Linked DNA regions of Homo sapiens: region 2 is linked to region 1. The links come from fine-mapping of genetic effects on gene expression. Tissue or cell type: whole blood. Region 1 holds a variant in brackets; the other region holds the start of a gene. All regions are shown on one strand. Distances are from middle to middle.

Evidence for each region. PIP is the estimated chance that this variant, and not a neighbour inherited with it, causes the effect.
Region 2: it holds the start of AFAP1L2, and the variant in region 1 is fine-mapped to the expression of AFAP1L2 in whole blood (TOPMed, PIP 0.96).

The regions. Positions count from the first base shown.
Region 1 is chr10:114,281,334-114,284,015 of GRCh38, reverse strand. It overlaps VWA2 (von Willebrand factor A domain containing 2), which reads right to left. Exons shown (of 14, transcript NM_001272046.2): 9 at 1,445-1,500. It also overlaps a transcript of AFAP1L2 not described here. Among named protein-coding and RNA genes, the nearest start is that of VWA2, 43 kb to the right of the region's middle. The variant G/A (reference allele first, on the strand shown) is at 1,390.
Region 2 is chr10:114,402,930-114,405,611 of GRCh38, reverse strand. It overlaps AFAP1L2 (actin filament associated protein 1 like 2), which reads left to right and starts at 1,110. Exons shown (of 19, transcript NM_001001936.3): 1 at 1,110-1,172. The coding sequence starts at 1,157. RefSeq lists an enhancer at 575-1,075 and silencers at 1,029-1,108, 1,906-1,955.

The sequences.
Region 1 (2,682 bases):
TCATGTGATCATGTATTCCAAGAGCTGGATAAGCAGCTGAGTGTGGTCACAACTGGGACTGGCATTTTCTTGTCCTTTTTGCTTACAAATATTAATCTCTTTCTTGATGGCCACATCATTGTAATTAAAATATAGACTTTTCAAAGGCAGAAAAGATTGAGGCTAAGTCTAGGCACTTCGCTGGGGCTGCTGTTGTATCAGCCAGAAGACTGTGGAAATAGCTGGGGGCTCACTGAGATCGACGACAGTGGCCTTTAACTGAGCATCTATTATGTGCCAGGGACTGTGCTAAGCACAATACACGCATGGTCCCATTTCATTGTCACAACCTTAGGTAGGAACTATAAAAACCCTATATGACAGATGAGGAAGCTGAAGCTCAATGAATAGAAGTCACATGCCCCAGGTCAGATCATTGGTAAGAGGCAAAGCTGGGACTGAAAGCCATTTCACTCTAGTTTCCAAACCGGAAGTCCTCAAACCCTAATTTCTGAGCAGAAACAGCTCCACTCTCAGATTCTCCTGTGCTTCAGAGGCCGTGGTGCTGGAACTGTAAACCTTGTGAACATACTGAAGGGATCACCTAACCCCAAATAGGGACACTCGCTACCCTGCCTGTGTGTCTAACTGCTCGCTACCCTGCCTGTGTGTCTAACTGCTCGCTACCCTGCCTGTGTGTCTAACTGCTCGCTACCCTGCCTGTGTGTCTAACTGCTCGCTGCCCTGCCTGCCTGTGTGTCTAACTGCTCGCTGCCCTGCCTGTGTGTCTAACTGCCGGCATTGCTTCCGGGAGACAGGCTACTCATCGGGAGTAACAAATCCACCCCAGGACTGACACCTACACATTGAAGGGCAATTTCAAGCTCCCAGGTCAGTGGGGTCACTAGCACCCCAAGTGAGGGATAGTGAGGGCACACTGGTGAACCATGCTGAATGATGCATAATGGCATCGATGATTCCTCACGTTAATTTGGGATTTTACAGCTGAGGGATTACTTCCATGGGCATTATCTACTGAATCTTCACTAGGACCTCATATACGATGACCCCCTTTCACATGGAGGAGGGAAATGGGCTTCCAGACATCGGACAAACCACTATGTTTTATAGAGGAGGAAATCACTCAGATATCTTGCCCTGAGTTTGGTGCTGGCTTTGAGGATGTCTGCAAAGCTGGTGCTCGGTGCCTGCCTCTCTGCCTCTCACCAATGCACACAACACTGGTTCAGGGGAGTAATCCCAAAGCCGCCACTCCATTCTTAATGAGCAAACACCATTGAGGGAGTCAAGAGCACACTCTCCTCTGCCCCCCAAGTGCCCCATCCCTCTGCCCTGGAGCCAGTCACAACCCCACCCTCTGTCCCAGGATTGTAAAAGCCACTTTACAAA[G/A]CAGCCTGGGCCCAGGGCCCTGAAAGAACCTGTAAATCCAAGAGACAGACCATACCTGGGCAGGTGGTCCTGTAGCAGGTGGCAGGGTGGGTTAGGAACACTCTCTTCCAGCTACAATCCAAGGAAACAGAATTATAGACAGATCAGAGGTGTAAGGGGAGGGCAGAAAACAGAAGATGATTTACAACACCAAAAGCTGATAGAAGATTCCAATGCAGAAGTAAGAAAGACTTCCTGGTTTTGTTTCTTGATTCTACCCTAACTTTTCTCTGCACATAGAGTAGGGAATGTTTCAAACTATCCAGTGACAATTAAAAAAAATAGGCTGGGAGTGGTGGCTCACGCCTGCAATCCCAACACTTTGGGAGGCCAAGGTAGGCAAATCACTTGAGGTCAGGAGTTTGAGACTAGCCTGGCCTACATGGTGAAGCCCCGTCTCTACTAAAAATACAAAAATTAGCTGGGCGTGGTGGCATGTGCCTGTAATCCCAGCTTAGCAGGCTGAGGCAGAAATGCTTGAACCCAGGAGGCAGAGGTTGCGGTGAGCCGAGATTGCACAACTGCACTCCAGCCTGGGTAACAGAGTAAGACTCCATCTCAAAAAAAAAAGGTAACATAAGCTGGCTATCACATTTGAAATTAGGGACATCCACATGCAAAACCCCAAACTGTAGCAACAGCTTTTTATTATAAGTTACTTTCTGAGGCTTACGATGCAGTAGGGAGAGAAATATTGGGAACTGGGCAACTGGATTTTGGCTGTGTGACCACAGACATGTTACTTTCCTCCTCTGGTCTTCACTTTCCTCTTTGTATAGTAATTCTATCTTCACTTTTCAACTGTATTCCTTAAAGCTTCGATGGGGAGAGAAGAGCACTGAAGGAGCAAGGCTCCAGGCCTCCCGCAGTGCCCCAGCCCCGCCCCTCCACCCCAGGTGTGCTGCTACTATCTGGTCCACACAACAAGTGTCCACACGAGGCTCTGCAGGTCAAGACATGTAAGCCACTGGACTCAATGACTTCTCAGGTCTGCTGGAGAACTAACGTTCTGTGATAACACAGCAGCCACCATTCCTTGGGTGGCTTCCACCTGCTGGTGTTCCATGAACCACAGCTACCTGAAGAGATGGTTCCCTCCATGTTCCAGATAGGGAAATGGGTTCTGAGGGCTCACTTAGGGCCCCTGAGGTCACATAATTACCGGAACACAGCAGAGCTGGGATCCAAACCCTGACCATGACTCCAAATCCCCCCACTCTACCCTGTGGGCCTCACCCTCGCCTCTCCTGCGTC
Region 2 (2,682 bases), 120 kb before region 1:
AATATTTCTACATGCTGTTGGGAGGGGTTGGGGGAGGTCTCCAAACATCACAACTAAATCTGCGATTCCAAGGAAGAATTAAGAAGTCTTTTAGAAAACCACCACTGCCAAATCTTCCTTAATTGTTCCTTCAAGGAAGCTGGGGAACTTAGGTAACCAACCAGGCACCCAGCACAAACCGTGACTGAGATTTTAAAGTGAAAACTGAAAAAGTTTAAAAGAACACATAGATCTCTGGGGGGAGCACGGAGAAGACTAGGTCGCATTAAGGGCCTGGAAGGACCGGTGGCAAAAGGCAAAGGATGGAAGTGTGGCACTTCTGGATGGAGGCAGTGCAGGGTGGAGATTCAGAGCCATGGCCGAGCTTCCTTATGGAACCGGCGCCACCCCTCCAAGGCGGTCAGGTTTACTGGGCGCCCCGGAAACGGCACTCCCTGACTTGTGGCGTTGGCCCTGGAAATTCAGGTAGAAAGCAGCAAGCAGATGTTTTCACACACCCTGAAGTGTGCGCGATTGGCAGCGGCTGCCCAGAGAGGTTCCAAGAGAGTGGGAGCAATCCCCAAAGAACCCGGAGCAGGTTTGGTTGCCCGCCCCGCTGCCCTCCTCGCCCCTCCAGGAAGGCCTAGGGCAAAAGCGCGCTGGCTCGGGAGCCAAGCGCGAGGAGCTCTAAGCCAGTCTCAACCTCCTAGCTTGGACCTCGGTCTCCTCCTCCAGGCATTGGGTTTGCAGCGGGCAGGGGTGTGGGAACAATCTTGGAGGCCCACCCAAGCCCGGCCTCCCGGAGCCTCCCCCAGAGTTTGGGAACGTCCCAGTCTCGTTCCCTCTCGACGCCCCCGGAGTCAAGACGTGAAGGGAGTGCCAAGGCGGCCGGGGGCGGCGAGCGGGGCCGCGGGCGCGCACCGACTCAAGAGCCGACTGTCAGCCTCGGCGGGCCGGAGTTCTCCGGCGCTGGGACAGGGGCGCTGGGACAGGGGCGCTGGGGGCGAGCCCTGGCGGGGGCCAGGTCCGAGGACCCTGGGCGCGGCGGCCCCGCCAGGAGGTCCGGCCGCGAGCGTGACCTCACGGGGAGGGGCCAGCGCGGCGGCCTGGGCGCTGAGCCGAGCGCCGGGAGAGCAGCGCAGAAGCCGAGCCGCGAGGAGCGCACTCCGTGGCCCCGATGGAGCGGTACAAAGGTGAGGGCGCGGGTTCCTCGCGCGGCGCACACCCACTCCCTTTCGCCCAGCGACGCGGAGGGCAGGGCTAGGACTCGTCTTGCCAGGACTCGGGATAAGCAGAGCCCACTGCCCCCACCCAGCCCGGACCTGGGCCTAAGAGGGGGCGACAGCGGCGCCGCGGACTGGGCGGGTGGGCTCCTAGGTGGCTGCTGCGGCCCGAGCCCTTTGATCCTCCCGGGCGCGGAAGGAGGGGGTCGTCAGTGGGGGGCGTGGCGGGGCTTCTCACCTGTTGCAGGAGAGAGGGTGAGCCCGGCACCCCACTCCACCCTCAGTCCCGCCGCACAGGAAAGATGCCTGGGGCCGAGGAAGCCCCGAAGAAGGTGGGAACCGTGCTGAGCTGCTGGGGGCAAAGGGTCGGGCTGTTGAGTCCTTTCTCCCGGGCGCCCGCCGGGCTAGGGGCTTCCTGCTCCCGGCAAAGCGCTTGGGCAGTGGAGTGGGCGCGCAGACCCTCCCCGGGCTAGGTGGGGCCTCCCCAAACGTCCTGCCGTTCGGGTCATCGTTTCTCTCCAAGCCCTTCTTTGCTCCCCCACACCAAGAAAGGAGGGATGCGAGGGTCGGGGGCCGAATGGAGTGCCCGGCAGGTGGAGCTCCTGGAGGCGTCCGGACCCGAGGGCTTAGCTCAGTGCGCAGCTGGGCGAGCTTTGGGTTTGGCGGGGGCCAGGATCTCCGCCAAACCCCGGTGGGCGGGCCGTCCCGGGTGCGCCGGACGCCCAGCTTAGCACCCACACTCGGAGCCTCGGAGCTGGTCTACAAGTCTCGATTGCGGTTCTTTTGAAAAGGGAGTACAGGGAGTTGCCCCTTAAGAGGAACCCTGCGGGCGCTCCCCCCTCCCCCATCCTCCTGCAGACCCCTTCCCTTTGGAAAAGCCTCTTGCCTTCTCTTTTGCTGGACCGGTCTCCGCCAAACCTGCGGGAGGAAATGCTGCTTCTATATTTGTTTTCCCCTGGGAGAGAGTAATAAAAAGAGAACGCTCAGATTCCCAGGAATCTCACTCCCGGAGGGCTCTGATCCCTGAAACTGACATAAAGGGACCTGTTGGGACCGGCTTCCCTAAAGTAGTCTTGTCTTTCACTTTCCCATTGCTTTTTCTCATCTGGGTAGCCTGGTTACTGGTGAAGGCAAAAGATCCAAGTCCCAGACAGAGCTTCATATATTCAGGAAGGGTCTTTGCCGACAGCAGGGAGCCGGCGTGGGGGACAGGGTTAAAGGAGTTGGCCACCTTTGATTTCTTTCTGTGAACCCTCCCTGGAGCTTCTCTCGCATTTCTAACCCGGTGGTTTTCTTCTTCTCAAATTCTACTGGGATCACGTCAGTTTTGTGCTTGAATGACTGAATGCGCGCTTATGCTGTCTCAGACACTTGAGGAAGCCACAGTCCTGCTCCTTGTAACATGGCCGTTTGCACTCCCTCCCCTACTGGGGCCCCTCCGCCCTTCGGGAGGGACCCTCTCTGGGAATTCAGGCCTTGA